Regions from separate parts of the Homo sapiens genome. Here all the other regions are linked to region 1. The links come from fine-mapping of genetic effects on gene expression. A gene starts in region 1. Each other region holds a variant in brackets. All regions are shown on one strand. Distances are between the middles of the regions.

Region 1 (8,268 bases):
CAGCCTGCCATGAGGGTGCTCTGGGTTTTGTGGCATCAGTTGATCTCTAGAGGTCAGAATTATGTTATGCCCCTGGAATTCACAATTGTCTGTGAATCCCCAGTCTATCTGGGGCTAAAGCTAGACTACTTACATGACCCTATGTTTCTTCCCCTCTCTTCTGCACACCCACTCCATCGCTGTTTGCTCTGGTTGCTACATCTGGCTGGGATGTCACCTCCTGCCTGCAGCCACAGCTCTTTGCTCTCCAGCACTGACTTTCTCACCATTGCTGGCAACGTGCACACATTCACCAAAGTGCTGGGGTGCCTCCGAGGGCATTACTGACTTCAGCAGGTCCCAGACAGGTGCCATTTTTCTCTAAACCACCTCTGGAAAAGCCACTTAAAGCGAGGTAGGCCTGATGAGTTTTTAGTGACCTTGAAAACTTTTAGATGTTTTATCCGTGAACAAGCGGTTTGTTCTGAGGACTATAAAGATGATGAAGAGCTTGAACAAGGCCCCAGGGATCTTGCTTCTCACATACTGCTGAGTCTGTCTGTGGGAGATACAAATGTTTCCACTTCCTGGCTTAGAAAGTCCTCCAAGGACAGCTCCCAAGGTGCCCGGGGCCAATCAGCCCTTTCTCATCATTTAACCAGGTCACTGGACTCTGTCTAGATACCAGCCTTCCTCTTCCTTCCGAAAGACCAAAGCACTTTGATAGCAGCTTGGGGAGGAAGCCAGTGAGAACCACACTCACTGTTTTGCCCTTCTCTGGAATCTATGGCCTTCAGGAAGAGATCCAGAGCCCGGTGCAACTGTCTTCTCTGCCATTCAAATATCTTGAGGGGCACCCTGGCTTCATTACAGAAAATCTCCATCAGGAGTCCACTTAGTTCAACTCTGACCTCTCTTCAAGCATATTGCTAGGCTGGAAATAAAAGGAAGCCAGAACTGCCACCCCCACAGTCCTCTGAACACAATCAGGTGGATAAACGATGATGCCCGCGAGCACCAGCTGGGTTCTTTCAGGGGGAGGCATGCATAGTGCTGTGGAGGCCATTGCTTCCGTCTGAGATGAAGCTATATTTAGGGATGAATCTGGGCCTTCCTTCTCTTCCTCCCTCTCGTGCTAAGTGGCCATCTGCATCTCCCAGACAACCTCCACAAGCAGCATCCTGGAAAAGTGGCCTGGGGAAGAGGTGGCTATTAAATATAGACTATTGAGCCTGCTTCATAAAGATATTGAGTTAGTTTGCCTGTCATGCTAAGAGTGAGAAAGGGACATTGCATGCCTGGAACACACTTATTCACTCACTCTGTGACCATCAGAAGCATCCTTCTATCTCTGGGCCTCCATTTCTTTCCTTTTCTTTTCTTTCTTTTTTTTTTTTTTTTTTTGTTGTTGTTGTTGAGATGGAGTTTTGCTCTTGTCGCACAGGCTGGAGTGCAGTGGTGCGATCTCGGCTCACTGCAACTTCCACCTCCTGGATTCAAGTGATTCTCCTGCCTCAGCCTCCTGAGTAGCTGGGATTACAGATGCACACCACAATGCCCAGCTAATTTTTGTATTTTTAGTAGAGATGGGGTTTCACCATGTTGGCCAGGCTGGTCTCAAACTCCTAGCCTCAGGTGATCCACCTGCTTCGGCCTCCCAAACTGTTGGGATTATAGGCATGAGCCACTGTACCCGGCCTCTTTTTCTTTTCTTTATCTTCCTTTCTTCCTTATTCTTTCTACCCTCCCTCCTTCCCTCCTTCTCTCCCTCCCTCCCTCCCTTCCTTCTTCTTTTTTCTCTCTCTCTCTTTCTTTTTTCTATTTTTGAGACAGAGTCTTGCTCTGTCGCCCAGGTTGGAGTGCAGTGGTGTGATCTCGGTTCACTGTAACCTCCACCTCCTGGGTTCAAGAATTCTCTGGCCTCAGCCTCCCAAGTAACTGGGATTACAGGCGTGTGCCACCACACCCAGCTAATTTTTGTATTTTTGGTAGAGACGGAGTTTCACCATGTTGGCCATGCTGGTCTTGAACTCCTGACCTCAAGTGATCCACCCACCTCAGCTTTCCAAAGTGCTGGGATTACAGGCATGAGCCACCATGCCTGGCCTCTTCTTTTCTTTCATCTGCTAGGTAAGGGATTCGATAAATATTCCTCTAAAGTTTGCCCTAACTTTAGATCTTTCATTTGAAGAGCTGAGCTGTATAACTCCTAGACATAGTCACAGCCCAGCAGGACATCCCATGGTGACTGCTTAGTCCAGAGGAAGGTGAGTTGTGACATCCTTAACCCATTCCTCTTCTCTCTCCAGGAAGATGGTCAGCAAGGGTGGCTTGTGTGAGGTGGTGAGTGGCTCTGGCCACTGGCTCAAGAAGTCCCCAGGTTTATCTCCCTCCATGCAGTTAACCCTTCTCAGTTCCCAGGTTGCCCTGCGTCCAAGGAAAAGCTCACCTCTCAGCCCTCAGATGCACCCACCTAGCAAGAGTCTTTCTTATCTGAGCCCCCTGAGTTAAAAAGATTGGGAGTAGGGTAGGGGAGAGGAGGCAGAGGTTCTGGGAATGCATTGGTAAGTTCTAATTTTTAAGTTGCTTGAACTTCTGTGCTGAGCAATGCTATCTTTGTTAAACTTGGTTGGCCCACAGTGCTCCTGAAATAGCATTAAGCTTGTTTTAATCTGAAGGGAGAATGTTGTGCTATTGGTAAGGTGATAAAACTGTAAAAAAAAAAAAAAGAGTAATAAAGAATACAGCTCCCAAAGCACTGTGGTCTTCTTCTTCTTCTTCCTCTTCTTCCTTTTTTTTTTTTTTTTGAGATGGAGTCTCGCTGTACGAGCAATTCTCCTGCCTCAGCCCCCTGAGTAGCTGGGATTATAGGCATGTGCCATGATGCCCAGATGATTTTTTGTGTTTTTTAGTAGAAACGGGGTTTCACCATATTGGCCAGGCTGGTCTTGAACTCCTGACCTCAGGTGATCTGCCCACCTCAGCCTCCCAAGTGCTGGGATTACAGGCCTGAGCCACCATGTCTGGACAGCATTGTGTACTTCTGATTATTCATCTGTTGCATTATAAGTTACATGAGTGCAGGAACCACATTTGGTTCGGAGTAGGGTTTGTTAAATGAATGAATGACTCTGTCTCCATCTCTATCCACCACATGGGTGTCTCAGGTCCAGGCCAATAGCAAGAGGCTTTATGTCCAGTGTAGTTAAGGTGGGGACAGATGTAACACTGCTTCCTGAAGCTCCTCACTGCCTTGGGTTTCCTGTATCACTCTTCTAAATAAGGTAGGGCCAGGCCAGTGGAGTCTCCTCTCCCTTACAGTGCCCTGGCCTGAGCTTGACAGACTGTTTGGATGGACTGGGAGTGGGTCAGGCCTAGAGCAGCTCTTTCAGGGTTAGACTTGACCTGTCAAGTACCCTAGAGGCATGGGCAGTGCTGTAGAGGCCCCAGCACATAGTGTTTAGGCATGTAGATTCTGGAACCAGATCTGGCTCAAATCCGGACTCTGATACTTACTAACCATGTGATGTTGACCAGTTGCTTTACCTCACTGGTCTCAGTTTCCACATCTGTGAAATGGGATGATGATACAATACATACCTGTCAAGCCAGGCTTAGATGAGATCACGTGTGAAGGGCACTCCCCAGGCTGGCATCACAGGCAGATTTCCATCAGAGTGGAGTGCTGGCCCTCTGAGAGTACAAGCTGACTGGGCCTTGCAAACTGGGTAGGAACAGCTTTTGCTGGAAAGTTCATCTACAGGAAGTTGATTGAATTCTGAAGAGAGAGCTAAGAGAGCTGCCAGGTAGGACAATACCTGGTAAACACCAAAGGGCTGAGAGTAGGATCACATGGCAAGAAGTAGAGTAGAGAAAAAATAATAATAATCTGCAGGTTTGGGGAGGCAAACTGTTCTGTTTGCACTTGTCTGGCAAGGGAACATGGTGTCTCCTGGAGGTGGTCTTGTGCTGGGGAAATTCCAGCAGCCTGGAGCCACAATACTGTTTCTCACTGCTCAAGCCTGCCTGTTTTCCTCTGCCTAGGTAGCTCAGTTCCAAGAACACTTATTGATGCTTACACCGGGCCAAGCCCTGTGATGGGCCCTGGGTTCCAGAGGTGAGTCAGACATGGTTCCTGCCCATGGAGATCCCCATTTCATGATAACTGCTACAAGAGCCGTTTAAACACAAGGTGTTTTACAGTAGTTATAGTCTACAGAGTGCTTCTGATTGCTCACTAGGCCCCACTCCATTCACACTGTGTTGTCTGTGAATGTTGCTCTCTGGAGCTGTGGGGGGTAAGGGTAACCCGGGAAGGTGGGCAGAGCAGAGATTAAGATAGGGATATGACAGCCAAAGGTAGAGGGTGTTTAGGTGATCTGACCAAGGTAACACAGGTAGTCTGCACCACCGCCCCCTTCCCACTAGCTTTAGCCAAGCAAGGCCAGGTGAGGGGAAGATCCTATTAGCTAGCAAGGAGGTTTGCGGAAGCTCAGGGTGGTCAAGGAGCCGAGCAAAGAGGGAGGTCCACAGGACGTACACAGTCGGTACTAGAAGTGCCATGCTGCTCCCCCATGTCCAAAAGGGGATGCCGTGTCTTGCTTTCCAGCCGCCTAGACCAAGAAGCGTGAGGCCCAGGCCCTCGCCGCTCCCTTGATACCCGCTTACCAACACCGGGGGTTTCATCTCGCAGCGCCACCACGCCCCACTCCCAGCAGCCCTCCCCTGGTCTCCGCCCTGTGCGGGTCAGGGTGGGAGCGCCCGGCCACTCCCTGCGTTCTGGGCCGGGCTACAGCCCACGTGCGCCGGCGGCAGCGGCGGTGACAGCCGGCCCCACGGGGGCGGGGCGGGCTCCGTGCTGTCCTGTCATTGGCCGCGCCGCTGTCGGGGGCGTTCCCCAGCCCGGTCCACCGCGCGGCGCAGAACCGCAGGCGCTCGGCTGGCTAAGCCTGCGCCGGGCCGCCTCGCTCGCTCCCAGCTCTGTCAGTGGCCCGCGGGGCCCGATCGCTGCGCCCGCGGCCAGGGCCGAGGCAGGCCTGACCCGGGGCCGGGCAGCCCGCGCGACTTTCGGTAAGGCGGGGGCGGCGCTGGCCTCAGGGTGGGGAGGGCGGGCGGGCGCGGGTGGGGACCGTGCCAGCCTCGGCTGGACTCTGCGCCGTGTCCAACGCCCGGGAGGGTCAGGTGCGGCCGCAGCATCCCCCGCCTCAAACCCACCCGGCGGGGCGCACAGTGAGCAGGTGGCGCTGCGACGAAGCCCGGGGCGGCCCTGGCCGGCCTCTGAACCAATTAGAACGCAATAAAAGCCTCCCACCGGCACGCCGAACTACCTCTTACTCCGCTCCGCAACACCCAAACCCTGCAGTTCCAAGCCTAGAAAATCGCAAGCGCCAAAACGGGGTGGGAGTGACGCGCCTGCAGTGCTGCCTGTCACCTGGCAGAAGACCATCCCCAAACTTCCCAGGATTGGGGCTCCGAGCCTTGCACGCCCCGTTCCAGCTCTTCACTGGGCGCCCTTTTCCCCCTCCCCTGTCCCCTCCCTCTTTAGTAACAGGAAGTTAAGTTGGGCCAAATGTCAGTGGCCTGGCTGGCCGCGGGCTGGAGCCCAGTCGGGATGGGGTCGTGGCAGTGGTCCGAGGGGCCGCGGCACTGTCCGCTCTGCATCGCGTCTCCCGCATCCCCAGTAGCCCGCTCTCGCTCCAGGCCCAGGAGCACCCCCGCAGGGTGTCCGCGGCACCCACCCTGTAGGTGCCTGGCTGGCCCCGGGGAGAGGTGGGATCTTGCCCACAGCGTCTAAGCCGCTGCCGGGCCAGACGGGGCAGGTGGGGTAAATTGTATTCACCGCCAGCCTCACTGGCAGAGCTGGGAACGGCCTTTACTGGATGGGGATGAGGGGATGTGGAAACCAGAGTAGTGTGCCTCCTTCCACATTGTTTATTCTGAGGCCTGGGTTCTTAAAGCGGAAAGAGCTTTTATTTGGAAGCCTGTAGGGCCCCGCCAGGCCTACAGCAGTGTGCCGGCTCTCTTGCTGTGATTGTCGCCTGTTAACTACAGTCTACAATGATTTTGGTGAAGGATGAAGTCACCAGCCAGGCCCCTTGTGGGCTGGTCCCACGGGAGAAAAGCCAGAGGCGAATTGGCCCTCCAGTGTTTGTGCCAGGTTCCCTGACACCTGCACTTACTCTGTCCTGCTCCCCCTCCCCAGTGGCAGTCGACCCAACAAGTGGGCCTCCGGTCTCCAGGGTAGTCCTGTGCAATGCCCTGGAGACTCTAATACCGTAAGAACTCACTTTCTTCATGCAGAGAGAAGACGGACTTATTAAGTGCCTACTGGGCAACAGGTCCTGTCTTGTGGCACTTTTGCAGCCAATTTCATGGTTATTCCAAAAACGCTGAGAGTTTTGCCCTCCCCATTTTAGAGATGGGGAAAGAGGCTCAGGTATGGTAGGTGCCCAAGGTCACACAACAAGTGTCTGAGCCAGGTCCTGGCCCTGTCAGTGTGAGTCCAGTGCTCTTGTTTCATGGCTGTGGGAAGTGGTGTGCTGTGTGCAGGACCATGGCCCCACAGCGTGCTGACTAGAGCCTTCCAGCCTCTGAAAAGATGCTCTCCACCAGGATTTCAGGGGATGCTTCTTTGGCAAAACAGTTGAAGTGACCCAGGTTAGCCAAGTTGTTCAACCTGCAAACCCCTTATCCTCCCCCTAGTCAAGAGTAGTGGATAGTGTTGGCCAGATTGCTATGGGGAGGGATTGGGTGCTATTTTGGAAGGAAGCCTGCTTCTACCATTGACCTGGCCTCACCTCTGAGAAGCTGGCTTCTGGTATAGTCTAGGAGGACTGTGTTAGCTGAAATAACCTCTACCTTAGGACTGATTCTAGTTTCGTGGGGCTTTTGGGGGTGGGGGGGCAGGTGTTGGGGTGTAGTGTTATGGTTGTGGGGTAATTGAAATCCAGTTTGAACATACCTCTATAAAAACATGACATCACTTTTATCTCCAGCCCCTTCTTCCTTTAGGCCTAGGGCTCTGGCTTTCTGCTCATCCCCTCTTTCAAAAGAAAATCATGATAAGTCATGATTTTCATGACTTATTTTCATGATGTCATGAAAATCATGAAAACTGATACCAATCCATTATACTTTAGTATAAATCAGCTTTTAAGAACTATGCCTGGTTGTGGCTGTGGCCATTGGAGGCCCATTCCCAGGCTGCAAGGAGCAGCCATATGATCCCAGATTCCTTCTCTGCCTATAATTGGGGTATGTTTCTGTTCTCTCCACCCACACCTGGGTTTGCCTCCCAGCCATGGGCCTGCCCCCTTTGCTTCCCACTGCTGAAGTATAGAGGTCTTGTCTTCTTGGTGGAAGCCTTGGCTCTGGCAGGACGGGACGTGGTAAGGGTAAAAGAATAACTTGGTTAAACATTGCTGATCCTAGATGTCCTCTGAGGGCTAACAGTCTCTATTCTTTAAAGAGTCAGAGAAGAGAATACTGTTCATCATGCTGAGATGTTTCATTCTTTACATCATTCTATTGTTTCATTCTGCCTCTAAAGAAGTGGGGTTAACTGCATTTTACAGGTGAGGAAGCTGAGACCCAGAAAGGTTACAACTTGGCCGGGTGTGGTGGCTCATGCCTGTAAAACCAGCACTTTGGAGGCTGAGGTAGGAGGATCATGTGAGGCCAGGAGTTCAAGGCCACCTTGGGCAACGTAGCAAGACTGCTGTCTTTAGTAACAACAACAACAAAAAAGGTTACAACTTGCCTGCATCACACAGCATGTATGAGTGCAGTTTGAGTGTGGAGAATTAAATGCTATGGGAAGCAGGAAAAGCCTGTGGCTGTCTCTGCACTCTGGAGGCTTGGCAGGCACAGCTCCTCTGCTGCGCAGTCATCTCCCTTATCCGCGGTTTCACCTTTCGAGGTTTCGGTTACAGTCAGCCATGGTCTGAAAATATTATAGTATTTTGAGAGAGACGGAGACCACATTTACATCGCTTTTATTATAGTATATTGTTATAATTGTTCTATTTTATCATTAATGTTGTAATCTCTTAAGGTACCTCATTTGTAAAGAAAACTTAATCGCTCCTGTATGTATAGAAAAAAACACAGCATATATAGGGTTTGGTACTATCCAAGGTTTCAGGCATTTACTGGGGGTCTTGGGATGTATCTCCCTGAGATGAGGGGGGGCTACAGTACTTACCCTTTCTCACCCTATATTGTAATTATTTATGAACATGTCTTCTCACCTCACTATGAAATGGCATTTAAAACACTCAGAAACTTGGC
Region 2 (8,268 bases), 62 kb before region 1:
TCAGGACAGAATTCCTTTGCAGGGGGATTGACAATGAGTCATAACCTGCTTGACTTTTAAGTGTGCACTCAGAGATGACCATTTTTTATAGCAGAATTCCCGAGTCTAAACAACCTTTGGCAGCTGAAGACTGAGAATGAAATTCACCAACCAGTCCAGGGAAAACCTCTTCCAAAAGCTGTAATATTTTTGTTGGATGCAGGTGTGACCCGTGGTCTTGCCGTGGGGGAAGGGAATGGCTGTGGGAACAGTGCCACCTTGTGGCCATTTTTATGAGCAGACACTACCCAGTGCTGAGCTGAGGGCTGGTTCCTGGATGGTTACACTCCTGAAGAGGGACTTTCATTTTGGGATTGGGAAGGGGCCCAGAGATACACTGAGACCAGAGCCAGTCCCCACCTGGCAGCAAGCTCAGCTGCCTGAGTCAGAAGCCCTTCTCCAAAGTTACCACACTCCTGAGGCCCAGGAAGGCTGCCAGGCTGGGCGTGTGGTTATTGGGAGGGTCATGTGGCTGTCACTAGCAGGAACGTGTCTGGATATGGGAGTGGGAGGCAGAGTCTGAGAGGAGACAGAACAAATTTCACAATGGCCATGGCTGAGCCCCAGTTGGGAAGACGGTGACCCAGGAAGTATGCAAAGTGGTGGCAGGAGGGTGGTGTCCTCTTGTCTAGAAACCCAGGAGGCCTACAAAGCAGAGAGGACTCTACCTGTCCCCTCACCCCTGACCGTAGCCTGGGGCCTAAATGAGCCCTCCTACTCTCCGCCTTGCTGCCACGCCACCATCCCTGGCACAGGGTTCCTGGGAGGACAAAACGAGATGGATGAGGCTTAACACAGCATCTGGTGCGTGGGAAGCCCTCAGACATCCCTGTGCCTGTCCCCTCCCTCTCCTACTCTGTGCACTAGACATTGGAGTGACAACAATGAACCCAGCACAGCTGCTGTCAGAACTCACAGGCTGGCTGGGCGTGATGGTGCACACCTGTAATCCCAGGACTTTGGGAGGCTGAGATGGGAGGATCGCTTCGGTCTGGGAGTTGGAGACTAGCTTAGGTAACATATGGAGATTCCGTTGTTACAAAAGATAAAAAACAATCAGCCAGGTGTGGTGGCACGCTCCTATAGGTTCAGCTACTCAGGAAGCTAAGGTAGTGATCACTTGAGCCCAGGAAGATGAGGCTGCAGTGAGCTGTGATCACACAACTGCACTCCAACCTGGGTGACGGAGTGAGACCCTGTCTCAAAAAAATAAAAAATAAGAAGGACAGGTGTGGTGGCTCATGCCTGTAATCCCAGCACTTTGGGAGGCTGAAGTGGGAAGATTATTTGGAGTCAGGAGTCCAAGACTAGCCTAGGCAACTTAACAAGACCCTGTCTCCACAAAAAAATATAAAAATTAGCCAGGCATGGTGGTGTGCCCTGTAGTCCCAGCTACTCAGGAGGCTGAGGTGGAGGATTGCTGGAGCCCAGGAGTTCAAGACTGCAGTGAGCCATGATTATGCCACTGCACTCCAGCCTAGGGGACAGAGTGAGACCCTGTCTCAAAAAAAAAAAAAAAAAAAAAGGTAAAAAGAAACACCATAAAAATAAATTTAATAATAATACATTTAATAAGATATATCCAATATCTTGTCATTTTAAAATGTAATTAAAATAAAATTCAGTAATTAAAATTCATCAACTTCCCTAAGAGCTGGAAAATTAATGAAATATTTTATATTCTTGTTTTCTATGCTGCTTGAAATTCTGTGTGTATTTTACACCCACAGCACATCTCAATTTGGACTCACCACATTTCAAGCCCTAAATAGCCACATGTGGCTAGTGGCTACTGCACGGCACAGCACAGGGCTGGTGCAAGGAAAGGCGCTCACACACATATACACAATACACACACATACACAAATACACACACACACACATATCCACACACATACAAACACACACATGCACATACACACACATGCACACACACACACAAACATATATACACACACACATATACACACCCAGAGGTCAGTAAGTTACTGGTCAGTAACTTTATAAGGGGCACAAAGTTGATGGGTGATATGGTTGGGCTCTCTGTCCCCACCCAAATCTCATCTAGAATTGTAATCCCCACGTGTGGAGGAAGGGACTTGGTAGGAGGTGATTGGATCATGGGGGCTGTTTTCCCCCTTGCCATTCTAGTGATAGTGAGTTCTCATGAGATCTAATGGTTTAAAAGCGTGTGGTAGATTCCCTTGCTCTCTGTCCTGCCACCATGTGAAGAAGGTCCTTGCTTCCTCTTCGCCTTCCGCCATGATTGTTAGTGTCATGAGGCTTCCCAGTCATGCTTCCTGTTAAGCCTGTGGAACTGTGAGTCAGTTAAACCTCTTTTCTTTATAAATTACCCCGTCTCAGGCAGTTCTTTACAGCAGTGTGAAAATGGAGTAATACAGTGGGGGAGGCTAACTTGGACTGGGAAGGTAAGAAAAGTCCTCTTGGAGGAGGTGGTGTTTAAACCTGGCTGGCTGGCTGCATGAGACTTGAAAGTGAAGCGATGGGGAAAGGCTGGAGGGTGGGAGAGGGGTTGGCCTGTCCATGCACCATCCAGGCACCTTCTGATAGAATGAGAGTGAGTGAACTATAGCTCTCAAGCCAAACTCTGCCTGCCACCTGTGTCTGTATGCCCTAAGAGCTAAGAATGGTTTTCACATTTTCTTTTAGACAGGGTCTTGTTCCAGTGCCCAGGTGGGAGTGTAGTGGCATGATCTCGGTTCACTGCAGCCTTGATCTCTGGGGCTCATTCGATCCTCCTACCTCAGCCTCCTCACCTCAGCAGCCTCACCACCTCCCTCATCTCCACTCAACCTCTCCACTCCAGCCACGCTGACCGCTTTAATGCCCTGGTGATCACCCTCCCCTTCTCCTCCAGGGCTTTCCCTGGCTGCCCCCTCCACTGCAAAGTCCTTTCCTATCTCCTCTCTCCCTGTGGCCAACTCCTCCACTTCAGAGACCAGCCTTGACTTCACATCCTCTCCTGCTTCCCAGTTACCTCCAAAAGGGCCTCTGCCAAGCCATCCTCTCTGGTTTCTCTCTGAAAATCCAGGGTTGGCACAGTGTGAAGAGTGCACAGGGGCCTAGAGGCCTGGGCTCTGGAATGCTCCCGTTTCCAGACTCAGCTGCCTCCCCTGCCTCTTCCCCAGGGCTGCCAGTAAAGTGCCTTTTCCCTGCAGGAAAAAGAGCTGCCCCAGTTGGGCCTGGAAAAAGGGCAGGCATTCCCTCACTTGGCTGGCCAGGGGGGCTGGAAGTCTTTGACAGCCCTGCGGTCAGTCCCAGGGCCAAGTCCTTGTCCCCTCCTGGCAAATTTATGCGCACCTGAACTCTGCAGGATGCCCAGGAGGGGGCGCCAAAGTGCTGCCAAAAAAGAACAGTTTGGGGCATATGAATCAGATGGCCTCGTGGGAGTGCTTAGTGAGGGCTGGCTCTGAGTTCTTTTTACCCCAGCCCCTGCCCAGGGCCAGGCACTGTGTGTGGAATGGAGGAAAGGACACCATGCAAGAACTGACAAGGTCCTGCACATCTCCTATGCTGGCATTTCTTACGATCACAATGACTTTGGTGTTCCAGGCCCAGAGGCTGGGAGCTGGCAGGAAGCTTGACCATTGTGAAGAGCTAGTGTGCCTAAAGTGGCCTACAGATTTGTTGAGGGAGGCTAGGTGGGGTCAGGAAGGCAGGACCCCTTGAGCCAGTTGCCTCTGGCAGCAAACAGTCTCATTATTGCGTAATTAGTATTTTCTATGTTGACTTGACATGGACGTGGTTGGGAAGCACTATCCAATATGGAAGCCACTAGCTACATGTGACCACAGTACTTACGTTTTAATTAAGATTAAATAAGCAGGCTGGGGGGTGGTAGCTCATACCTATAATCCCAGCACTTTGGGAGGCTGAGGTGGGCAGATCTCTTGACCCCAGGAGTCTGAGACCAGGCTGGGCAACTTGTTGAAACCTGTCTCTACCAAAATACTTAGCCGGGCATGGTGGTGCATACCTATAGTCCTAGCTACTTGGGAGGCTGAGGTGGGAGAATCACCTGAGCCCAGGAAGTTGAGGCTACGATGAGCCAAGATCACGCCACTGCACTCCAGCCTGGGTGACAGAGCAAGACCCTGTCTCAAATAAATAAACAAATTAAGATAAAATAAAATTTAAAATCCAGTTCTTTACTTCATTAGCCACATTTCAAGTACTCGATGGCCACATGTGGCCAGTGGCTCTCATGTCAGCACAGAAATAAACATTTCCATCATTGAAAGTTCTGTTGGACAGTGCCACCCTAGAACTTGCTCTGATCTCTTGTGGGTAGGGTGTGCTTTAGAATTTCAGAGAGTTCACTGTTAGCATGCTGCCTCCCATGGATATGGTTGTTACAAGGTTATGAGAAAGGCAGTCAGACCCACCTAGGATTAACCCCTGATTTTGCTGGTTACAAGCAAAGTGTCCTCTATGCAAGGGCTCTGCAGGGCTGACACGGGACTTGAGCATCCGCAGACTTTGGTATTCAAGGGGATCAGGCAACCAAACCCCCACAGTTAGCAAGAGACAACTGGACTACTTTTGTGGCTTCAGAGAAGTCACTTAATCTCTTTCAATCTCTGTTTTCTCATCTCTAAACTGGGGATAATATCACCCTGCCGCCACAGTTATTATTAGATGAGCTAAGACAGATAAATCACAAAACGCAGTGCCTAGGACACAGTTTTGCGGCCTTACCGCCCCAGCCGAGTGTGCCTTTCTGCGTGCACTCACCCACAAGCCCTCATCCCCTGGCTATACTGTGTCCAGACCTGTGTCGGGTTCCACATCTCGTTCAAAGGCAGCACCGGGCTTGATTCTTGCACCGGGCTTGATTCTTGCCTAGAAGGAGATTGCAATCTAGGTCAGAAGGCAAGATAAGGCCCATGAA[G/A]CAACCTGAAAACAATTCTTAGGCAACACACAGGGCAGTGTGTCATCCCGTGAGCCAGAGTCTGATGGGAAAGTAGTGTGGGGTGGGAGGCTCTTCTAAGTCCTCGTAGAGAAAGTGGGTGAGATTAGAACTGGTCTTGAAACAGCGTAGAGTTTGGACCGGCAGAGCCAATGAGAGAGAAGTGGCAGCAGGGAATGGTGTGAGGGCAGAGGAACAGCGTGAGCAAAGAAATGCTCAGAGGTGGGTAAGGGAGGGGCCAGAGCTAACACAGTATGGGGCAGCTTGGCCGAGGTGCTCAGGAAGGGGACACACTTCCTGAGAAGAGAATTTGCTAAGAAGATACTCAGATCTTGGAAGCCAGGCTGAGTTGCTTAAGTTTAATGAGACAGGTGGTCATCAGGCAGGCGGGGCCTTGAGCATGGAAACTGGCAAGGCCTGGGGAGGATTGCACTGACAGCAGAAGTCGGAGGTCTGTGAGGGAGATCCTGCAGTCAGGGTGACGTCAGCGAGAAGTGACACCAGCGGCCTTCCGGGGCAGTGCATGGTACCATTTACAGAGCGCTGTTAACATAGCCTGGGCTCAAATTGCTGGGTCCTAACACAGTAACCAAAAACTGGACTCCATTGGTCTACACAACAAGTCAACATCAAATTGGGAAGGAGCAGTGGGTAGGCACCAAGAAGAAACAGAGCAGAGGAAATGCCTGTCACAGTGTGTCAAGATCTGAGCCCCAGCCCCTTAATCAGTTAAGAAAAAGAACAGGGGCCGGGTGCGGTGGCTCGCGCCTATAATCCCAGCACTTTGAGAGGCCAAGGCGGGCAGATCACGATGTCAGGAGTTCAAGACCAGCCTGGCCAACACAGTGAAACCCTGTCTGTACTAAAAATACAAAAAATTAGCTGGGCCTGTAATCCCAGCTACTTGGGAGGCTGAGGGAGGAGAATCACTTGAACCTGGGAGGCGGAGGTTGCAGTGAGCCAAGATCGCGTCACTGCACTCCAGCCTGGGTGACAGTGCGAGACTCTGTGTCAAAAAAAAAAAAAAAGAAAAAAGAAAAAGAACAGGTACAAGGAGGAGAAGAAGGGGGTGTCTAGAAAGAGGACTGGGTGTCTGAGAAACAGGGCTGGGTGTCACATCACACACATACACAGGCACACACAGTCACATTCACATGCCTGTACACATAAACACATATAAGGACACACATATAAGCCCCCCAACTTACTCTTCATGCTAATCATACCCAGAGACCCTTAAGGATACATGCAAATGCATATGTACGGGCACACATCAATACGTATGTGTATATACACGTGTTCTTCCTCAGCCCAGCCTCTCCTTTTAGGCCTGGAGCTGGGGCTGACATTGGGTTTACATCAATCAAAGCCACTAGGAAACGTCTATCCTGCCTGGGCCCAGAGTCCATTTCTGACAGAGGCTTCTCCAGGCTTTACTTGTAAACGCTATTTATTTTGGAAAGCAACTTCTCTGTTTTCAAATAAAACGTTGGGACATGCAGTATTGGATTTCCCTGATCTGACATTGACCTAGAAAAATGTGCTGGCAGGAACAGAAAATGCGATGCCCCACTGTGCTGGCAGGCACAAGAGTTTCCCTCCTCTTGGCTTTGATTGCAAAGGTTAAGATGCAAGTGAGAGAGCGCAGTTCCCCCTCCCTGCCTGAGCAGCACTCTCCCTGCAGAGCTGGAGGGAACTGGGGGCCATGTTTAGGGGCTTCCTGCAGGTTTTGGTGCTTGTGGTCTTAGGGGCATGCTTCTGGGTGGGGAGCTTATCACAGAGGGGCAGCTTGTCACAGGGCTGGTGGCCGAGGCCAGCATGTAGAGAGCAAACAGCTCCAGGATGTGCAAAATATGAATAGGGCCCAGCTATGGGGGTCCCCACGGTTGTCATCAGTGAAAAGGGCAAAGCAACTTGAGCTCTGGGTGAGGTTTGAAGCCAGTTCCTGTCCCTTGGGGAAGAGGTTTCCTGGAGGCAGACCTGCCAGGTCCAGCTTCAGGTGAAGGTCATGGCCTGCTGCCATCTGCAGCGGCCTGGGCACCAGTTGCAACGGTTAGGGGCAGAAGCTGGGAGCAAGGGCTGAGGCAGGAGCCCCACATCATGGTGGGAACCCAGACACCTGTGGTCTGCTTGCGGGGGTGGGCCCTGGTCTAATTAGCAAAGGAGGCTCAAAAAGCAATACACAATTCATTGCCCCAGCTGAGCCACAGAATCTCTCAGAGTTCCTCAGCTGCTCCAGTGACTTAATTCTGTGCCTGTTAATTCTGTTCCTATTCCACCCACATCCCTTATGGCCTCTCTGAGGATGAAATGAGATCAGAAATGTAACATGCTCAGCCAGGGCCGGATGCATAATAGGTAGGCTCGGTAAACGTGAGAGCAAATCCCAGCTTCACCACTCACTAGCTGTGGCGCCTTGGGCGAGCTCCTCCTTGGTGCCTTAATTTCCTCATCTGTAGAATGCAGATAATAACAAAATGTACGTCATAGAACTGTTGGGGATTAAATGAGTAAATATTTGTAAAGCACTTTGAACAGTGCCTGGCACTTAGTAAGCGTGATAGCTGTTTGCTATAATATTAAATTTACTCTTTTTGTGTGTGACAGGGTCTCACCCCGTGCAATGGTGTGATCATAGCTCACTACAGCCTCTACCTCCCAGGCTCAAGCGATCCTTCTACCTCAGCCTCCCAGATAGCTGGGACTAGAGGTGCACCCCACCACACCCGGCTAATTTTTTATTTTTTATTTTTTGTAGAGACTGGGAGTCTCATTATGTTGCCTAGGCTGGCCTCGAACTCCTGGGTTCAAACAGTCCTCCCACCGTGGTTTCCCGAAGGTCTGAGATTATAAGAGTGAGTCACTGTACCCAGCCTTAAATAGTATTCCTAATGGTTATTCATGTATTTATTCATGAATTTATTCAACACGTCTTTCTTGAGGGCCCACTATGAACCAGGCACTGTTCCAGTCACTGGGGCTATAGCAGGGAACAAGAGACACTAGCCCTGTGGTAGGTATAATGATCCTCCCTGCCCCCAAAGACGTCCATGCCCTAATCCCTGCAATCCTGACTATGTGATGTTACGTGGCAAGAGAGACTTAAGGTTGCAGGTGGAATTAAGGTGCTCATCAGCTGACTGGGAGAGAGGGAGGGTGCCTTGGATTATCCAGGTGGGCCTAACGTAATCACAAGGGTTCTTAGAAGAGGGAGGCAGGAGAGTCAGAGAAGGAGGTGCGAGGATGGACACGGGGTTCTAAGTGATGTGATTCCTGGCTTCTTCCAAGATGGAGGAAGA
Region 3 (8,000 bases), 150 kb after region 1:
GGTATTCCACAAAGAAAGACTGAGGGTGTTCATACTCGAAGCTGTCCATTTAGCTGCCTGGCAACCGGTCTTATGAAGAAACTTGGCCTCAGTTTGATTTGGGGATTTTTTTTAAATGTTGTCCTATTTATTATAAAGGATGCAGAGGAGCAGCCAGATGGAAAAGAGGCATGGGGTGTGGTATGGGAGAAGGGGCTCAGAGCTCCCATGCCCTCTCCGGGTGCGGGCATGCCACCCTACGGGAGCCGGCATGGTTTGAAGGTCTTAGCCACATCCCCGGGAGCCCCCCATTGCTGGAGCTTGTCTCTGAGGCAGCAAAGGGCCCTCCTACCTTATCTCAGTGCCACTTCTTTAAGGAAGGTGACAGAAGCCGTTTCCCAAGTTTGAGCCACCCTGGGCTATTTCCATCGTTACTATTTTCTGACTTGGACAGTGGTGGGCACTTGGCTTTTGTCTACTTAGCTCTAGTTTACAGGAGAAAAATTTTTCTGTATGTGTGTGCCTCTTTTTACAGGCAAATTTTACTGCAAGCCTCACTTCATTCACTGTAAAACCAATAGCAAACAACGGAAGAGACGGGCAGAGTTGAAGCAACAAAGAGAGGTATGTTTGTCTCAAACATGCTGGTGAAACGGGGAAGGCCCCTTGATAAGGGTTTCCAGTGATCCTCAAAGTTAGGCCAGCTTTGCTGGCCCTAGAGGGATTGAGATGACTCACAGATAAAGAAGAAAGCCTCTGCTTCCTGGTGTGGAGGGTTCTTTTGCTTCAGTCTGTTCCACAGCCTCTGGGGTGTGTCCCATTCCAGATGAGCTCCCAGGACAGTAGCCATGCTGGCTTCTCATAAGAAGCCTGGAAGAGCTTGCCCATGTGGCAGGGATGGGGTGATATGCTTAGCCACACAAAAGCCACATGGCCCTCTGTACCTGGAACCCACCTGGCCACAAGGTGCTGTTTGCAAGAATGCCTGGTATAGGACCGACCCTTCTACATTTTCCAAGTCCTCTCCCAGGCTCTCGAAGTCAACAAAGTGACCAGCCCACTGAATTCATAGATGGTTTGTGGAAGCATCTCTTCTGGCATCTCTTAGCAAATATCTTCTCTCGGGCTTGATTAATCATCTACCACTAGCAACAACCCATAACTTAAAACTTTTTTCTAATTAGCCAAATATATAGGTTCAGTGTAAAAACATGGGAAGGAAAGAATATAAAGAAACAAAGTTAAATCACCTGTAACCACTCTACCCTGAGAAAACCGCAGTTGACATTTTGTAACATCCCTTTCCAGGCTTTTTTTCTATGTGAATGTATTTTAACCAAAGTGGAATCCTATGCCTAGAGTTTTATATTCTTCCTTTTCTTCACTAACTGTATATCAAGAATAGTTTCCCATGACATTAAATTTTTTTATGTTGGAGCATAATTTTTAATGCCTTTGGAAGATTCTAGTCTATAAATGGTCAATAATTTACTTCACCACTTCTGTATTACTGGATCTTTACGTCGTTGGAATTTTTTATCTTACAAATGTTTTTACAGTGTATGCTAGTATGCATGTTGTTATCCATATTTCAAATTATTTACTTGATGTATATCATTAGGAGTGAGATTGCCGATCAAAAGGCATGCATATTTTTGAAGGCTCGTGACTCCTATGGTCAGTTGGCCCCTAGAAAAGTGCCCGTGTTCAGCACCGGCTTCAGCATGAGTCGGGGGGCTGAGATTATTGTGGGGGCTGGTTGCAGGGTCTGGCGAGTTCAGTTTGTATTGGCTGTTGGCTTTGTTGAAGTAGTCCTCTGGAAGACTTACAGACAAATGCCCTCATTTCCATCTCTTTCTCAGGAGGAGGCAACATGGCAAGAGCAGGAAGCCCCTCGGAGAGACACTCCCACCGAAAGTTCTTGCGCAGTGGCCGCCATTGGCACCCTGGAAGGCAGCCCCCCAGGTATCTCCACCTCCTTCTTTAGGAAGGTGCTGGGCTGGCCCCTCAGGCTGCCGAGGGACCTGTGTAACTGGATGCAGGGACTCCTGCAAGCTGCTGGCCTCCATATCAGGGACAATGCTTACAACTACTGCTACATGTACGAGCTCCTGAGCCTGGGGCTGCCACTCCTCTGGGCGTTCTCTGAGGTCCTGGCAGCCATGTACAGGGAATCTGAGGGCTCCCTCGAGAGCATCTGCAACTGGGTGCTCAGGTGCTTCCCAGTCAAGCTCCGCTGACATGGCTGGCTGCCCCAAAGTGCCTTCACATTTCCAGGGAGGCTTCAGATGGCAGTGCGTTTGCAGTTTGCTCAGGCTCTGGCCAGGAAGCCTAGCATTCTCTAAGCAATTAGCTCAAAGCCAAAGAATTTCACATGGGCCACCTCCGCCTGGCCTTATCAGGGTGAACATCTACTCACGGTGCTAGGGCCAGGGATGATATGAAGGATCTTTTCTATAGCTTTGTGAGCCATACTTCTGGGTTTACATTTCAATTTTTTTAATTTTAATTAGCCCAGAGAAAGCATTTTTTTCTATGAGTGTCAATTTTTCTAAACATGGGTTTGAAGCTTATAACCAGTTTTATAAACCCCTTGAACACTGCAGTGAGTTATCAAAGCCACTGCCTGCAAAGTGGATGATTTAAGATTTTACACGCATGAAAATGAGTGTGCCATCTCCTGACCAGTGCCTTTTGACTTAGGTACCCAGATGCCACTTGTCAGCAGCAGGATACTTTTTACAACACGAAAGCATAATTATTTTAGAAGAAGAGAGTAGAAGGGCAGAATAGAATTCAACTTACAGAAGCACGGAGCAGTGTGTGGTTGGCTGTTATCTGTCCCCCTGGGAGGAGGACTGTTTTGCTCCCTTGTTTTGATGTTAAACAGTAGCTTAAAGGCTTTCCCCCCCATACCAACTCACAGCCAAATGACAAAGAACCGTGGGGTTTCAACAGATTCTACAAACATGCATTTTCCCTTCCCACTAATGGGCACTGCAGGGAAAGCCCATTGGCATTTGACCATGGAGCTGATGCAGTGCCAAAGATGAGCTCTTTCAACTGATGGCATTTTAGCCCCTGTGGCTCCCAGCGGATCCCCCAGCCCGGGCTGCAGGCTGAGCCAAGGCTGTGCAGGGTCCATATTGGTCAGGCCAAGTGGAGTGGAAGACTCTGTCCACTTATGTGGTGTCCTTTGGGACTGAGGGGGTTTGTTAGCACATCAGGCTATTGCTGGGAAGCGTGGCCTGCCCAGTGAGCATTGCCTGTGGACATCCTGACTGCTTAGCTGCTCCGCTGCCACACATATGTGGTCAAAACAGAAACCAATTTCACACTGCCCTGGGAAAGGAATGGGTCTGACCTCCAGGGGAAGCTCTACCATATCTTGACTGGCAGGGAAGGCTGGGAGTGGAAGCTATTTATGGACTGATCCAAAGGACATATGCATGAGTAAGGGTAAAAATGAGCATGCAGGTCCACCTGTGTTCTTACTCTGGGTATCTAGAAGAGTCCTCAGCTCTCCCTACTCCACGCTGCCTAGACATACACAGCTGCAGGGTCTGGCTGAACAATCAAGGGGCCGCCAGAGAAAGGCCATCTACGGTGCGCAGTGTATCTGGAGTTGCTGGGCCCAAGATAGCTCTGTGGAGTTATCACTAGAGATGCCTCTGGATTAACTAAGAGGTGTGCCTGGGTGTGGGTGAGGAGTCAGAACCTTTGAGAGCTTTGAGATGACAGTTTCTATGGGGCGGGAAGAAGGAGGTGCATTTCTACAAACACTTCCCTGAAATCCTTGGGAAAAACAGAGGCATGGCCGTGGCCAACTCTGTGGGAACTGGCGCCTCTGTCCTTGTTGGCACTGTTCTCAGTCCGATGACTTGCATTGTGTTTTCTCCAATTTTTGCTGGGATTTTAATGTTCAGCATGGTGGGAGGAACCCTTGATTCCTTTTGTTTGAGTATAGAAAGTAAATTTTTGAGGTCATGATGTGAACGGCCATGTTATTGTGATTATCTTCAGCTCAGGATAGGCTGAGATGCTTTGTGGAGTGTTCCATGAAGCCCGAGTCGGAATCTCTGACTGTCGTGTACAGCCATAAGGAGACTGGTTTGAATTACTGTGGCGAGACAGGGCGTGCCTGTCAGAAATCTGAGATGTTTGTACGCTCTGAGATGTTGAACCTTTCTGGTGGGCAGCACCGACACCCAGGGGTGGACCCCCGAGGATGAATGCCTCTAGGCCTCCGCAACATATTCAAGAATGAATGGGAGACGCTAGAGTAAAATGGGGGCAGAGAGGATATCAGGGAGCAAGATGCAAACTGTGTGCATCCACTCTCGTAAACAAGTAGCTGGTCACAACCAGAAAGGTTCATCTCTCCTAAGCAAACAGCGACTCTTTCAGAGGAAGTTTCCCTCTTTCAATCGTGGCCTTATTTTCAACTCCGGTGCCTTCTCGTGATGTTAATCATTTCCTTTTTTCCCCACACTAAGCTCTCTTTTCTATCTTTCTCTCTCTTTCCAATCTTACGCCATGGCCATCAGTTCATTTCAGCCTTCCAGTGCTACACCCACTTCTTGGCTGACACACTTCTGCTCTAAGGTGACTGGTTTTCTTGCCAATTTTCAAAGAGTGGTACTAACCCCCAACCCGCTTTCCGCACCCCGTCCTCTCCGCCAGCAGTACTGGTTGCACTAACTGTGAGTGTCTTGCATACTGATGGACTCATTTGGTGGCATGGTTGGCTAACAGCATGGCGGGGGGTGTTCAGCTTGAGACCCATGCCTGTGTTCATTTCCCATGGAGCTGGCAGCCTGGTCTACCCCAAGTGCATGCCCCGCCTCTCCTCTCTCCCTTGGGTCTGCCTGCGTGCATGCTTCTCCAGTTGCGTCTGCGAAGCTACCTACTTTCTTGGGAGGGTCGACCTTGATCATGAAACAATACCATGAGGGGGCCTCTGTCACCTTTGAAAAGAACACTTTTTGAGCAGCCTCAAAAAGCTCATACATACCAGC[G/A]CCTTCTTAAATTGGCTCTAATGTAAAGATTGTTAATGTCATTTATCAAAACCATAGGTGATTATTTGGAGGGATTTAAAAAACTTAATTACTCTCAGGCCTCATCCCAAGCTTGACACATGCTCTGTAGGTTGAACACATAATCACAAATATTCTAGCAAATGCTGCCTTGGTTGCAGCCTGCACTGTAGACCCAAGGGTTTTGCTGTGGCTCTTCTTATCTCCCTTGGCTCATAAAGCCCCAGATGATGCCAGAGCTTCAATTAGAGCCATCATCATCCCAGGCAGGGATATCTTTGAGAAATGACTCAGTTCAGCCCCAGGCCCCTGTGACTCTGCTTAAAGCACACATTTCTGCTGACTCTTGTACCTGGGGCAGCAGGATAATCACCAACACACTCTTAACGAGAAACAACACACCAAGCACCGTGGAGCTGTCCTAGGCAACACTCGCGGTCTCAGGCTGCGGTGGGCGTCTGTCCTGCATGTGGCCCAGACCACCCTGACCCCCGGGCCTGCCTGCCTGGCCCTGCATGCTGCACGCTCACTGTATTTGTGCAGATCCTGGCCAGTACAAAGTCGTTGCTCTTGTCTTATCTTCTCTTACAGAGTCTCCCTCCCTTTATAGAATGTCAACCAAAGAGTGCCCTCCTCCCCTCTCAGCCTCCTCTTTAGCTAGCCTCCCCATCTCATCACAACGCATGTCTGTGACCTTTGGTAATCATTTACAGTGCCACACGGAACCCTGTATTTTGCACACAGCAAAACAAACAATGTTTAGCTTTATTTATGGTATTTGATGCTGTAAATGGAAATAAATATTGTTCTTTATAAAGCTCATTGTTTCCTCTCTTCTTTGCCGTGGAAGCTTCTAAAACCTCACACACAGGGATTGGTGTAGGGGGTTCATTTTCCCTAAACTGCTGGCGGGACTTGCACTTGAGGTAACACAGGACTCTCTGGGGCTGCGCTGGGCACTCTGAAAGGAAATATTACCCCTGGGTAATATTTGGAAACTGTCACCAATGCTCCTGGGCTAGGCTTTGGGATCTCTTTCTTGAACACTCATTGTACTTTGCTGTTCTAGATGCTGGGCATAGTGGGTGAGGGTCAGTGTCCCCTCAGCGATTAGAAGCAGACTGTATTGATGGCTACCTTTACCCGTTTCCCCCGCACACCCAAGCGTGGCTCTACAGGAGAGCTTTCCCCATGAACCTTACACTAATTTAGGTTCCTATTCAGCAAAGGTTGGTCTGGAACACTTCACGCTGGTGCACAGCTGAGTGGCAAGTGGAAGGTAAGTAGGAAGGACTGGGCATCAATATTAGGATGGCAATGAAGTTGGCAGTGTGCTCATCAGATGGAGAGCCACTGCCATCCTAAGAGACCTCTCCTGTCCCAAAGGCTCAGGGTATTCAGTATCTATGGTGTGAGGCCCTGCCCTAGCACCACCCGAAGTATAGTATTCATGGCAGGCCCCAGGCAACTCCAGGCTGTGTTTAAGGGAAAGATTTGGAGCCTCACTTGGCTATCCTGGGCAGTGCCAAAGTCATCTGGTCCTCAGCCTCCCCTGGGTGGGATGCCTGCCATTTCCTGGCTGGGCGTAGCTGGGCGTAGCTGGGCTTCTGACAGTGGTATGAAAAGTCACCTGTGAACCTCATGAGGTCCCTGGCACCTCCAAATGGGTGTTCCTGAGGCTCTGGTCTCTGATGCCTGGATCTACCTTCAGAGCTGCCTCAGGTCATGACCAAGGGTTCTGTACTCTTACCTGGGTGATATATTCCCACTTCCATTTAAGGAGGGATGTTAGGGACTGTAAGTCAGGTGCTGGGCTGTGCAAGTGACTCATTCCTTTATGCATTCATTTATTCAGCAAATGTTTGTCCTAGGCCTTATTCTAAGCCCTAGGTACAGCAGGGAACCATGCGAAGTCCCCACACCTCCCTGCACCTTAGAGATGTGGCTCAGTATTGCTGTACTAGATGAGATCTGTTATATTTAACTGTGCATGTGCTCATTTGTTTGCTCAACTCTGTGATATTTCCTGAGCATCTACTATGTACTAGGAATACAGCAGGGAGTAAAGCAGACAAAAATCGTCACTTTATTGTCAAAGCGTGACACCCCAAGTGGTGCTTCACCAACAAAGGAGTCCATGATCACAACATTTGAGGAATATTTTGTACTGATCTTGCCAGTCCTCCCCCGTCCTGGAGACTAGCAAGATTCATTAGCATGTCAAGTCTCTGAGGCATCCTTGTAGGGAAGTTTAATCAACTTTGTGAAAGTCAGCTGTCCCATACTTATGTGAACATTTTGTTTTTGTTTTGGTTTGCTTTTTTTGAATATTGCATTCTACATACATAGTTTTGGTAGACTAGTGTTTAATTCAGAGATATTGGATTAAAGACTTAGAATTTTAAAAGGAAAACCATATAATTAAATATTAAATGGAATTAAGTATTGATTAGATATGGGGTGATAACCTTCTAAGCATAAATCCTCTAATAGGAAGAACACCACACAGGGAAAACATGACACAAATCTGATTATATACATTTTTAAAACTTAATGTAGAGTAATAAAATATTAAATAGACCATTAGACTAGGGAAAAATATGAACTAAATGTAATAACAAAGAAGTTCATTGCATGGTATTTTCAAGGTTCATTTAAAACAGATGTTCCTGGGCACCTCTCATAGTGTAGATGATCAGTTAATATTTGTTGATTAAAGAGTCAATGATAAATAGGCAAAGGCTATGAACAGGCAATTTACCCTTAAGCAAATTTTAAAAGTAAACACTAAAAAGAAAAAGCAAGCATTTACAAAAGTATTCCTACTTGGTTTTTAAAGGAAGTAAATTAATTATGGTGCACATGGGCCAGGTGCGGTAGCTCACACCTGTAATCCCAGCACTTTGGGAGGCTGAGGCGGGCAGATCACTTGAGGTCAGGAGTTCGTGACCAGCCTGACCAACACGACAAAACCCTGTCTCTACT

Direction of the effects. Alleles are on the strand shown, and positions count from the first base shown. SD is a standard deviation of normalised expression in the study named. Not every link is listed here.
As copies of A replace G in region 2, the expression in unexposed skin of the gene that starts at base 4,913 in region 1 goes down (moderate effect, 0.43 SD a copy in GTEx).

What was found. PIP is the estimated chance that this variant, and not a neighbour inherited with it, causes the effect.
Region 2: its variant is fine-mapped to the expression of MICAL2 in unexposed skin (GTEx, PIP above 0.99).
Region 3: its variant is fine-mapped to the expression of MICAL2 in whole blood (TOPMed, PIP 0.97).

What each region holds. Positions count from the first base shown.
Region 1 is chr11:12,105,678-12,113,945 of GRCh38, forward strand. It overlaps MICAL2 (microtubule associated monooxygenase, calponin and LIM domain containing 2), which reads left to right and starts at 4,913. Exons shown (of 28, transcript NM_001282663.2): 1 at 4,913-5,049. RefSeq lists a silencer at 4,607-5,276 and an enhancer at 4,819-5,522.
Region 2 is chr11:12,044,167-12,052,434 of GRCh38, forward strand. All of the region lies in intron 1 of LINC02547 (long intergenic non-protein coding RNA 2547), which reads left to right. Among named protein-coding and RNA genes, the nearest start is that of LINC02547, 17 kb to the left of the region's middle. The variant G/A (reference allele first, on the strand shown) is at 4,952.
Region 3 is chr11:12,257,954-12,265,953 of GRCh38, forward strand. It overlaps MICAL2 (microtubule associated monooxygenase, calponin and LIM domain containing 2), which reads left to right. Exons shown (of 28, transcript NM_001282663.2): 25 at 515-603; 26 at 1,842-1,944; 27 at 4,527-4,584; 28 at 5,607-5,832. The coding sequence ends at 4,567. Among named protein-coding and RNA genes, the nearest start is that of MIR6124, 98 kb to the left of the region's middle. The variant G/A (reference allele first, on the strand shown) is at 4,998.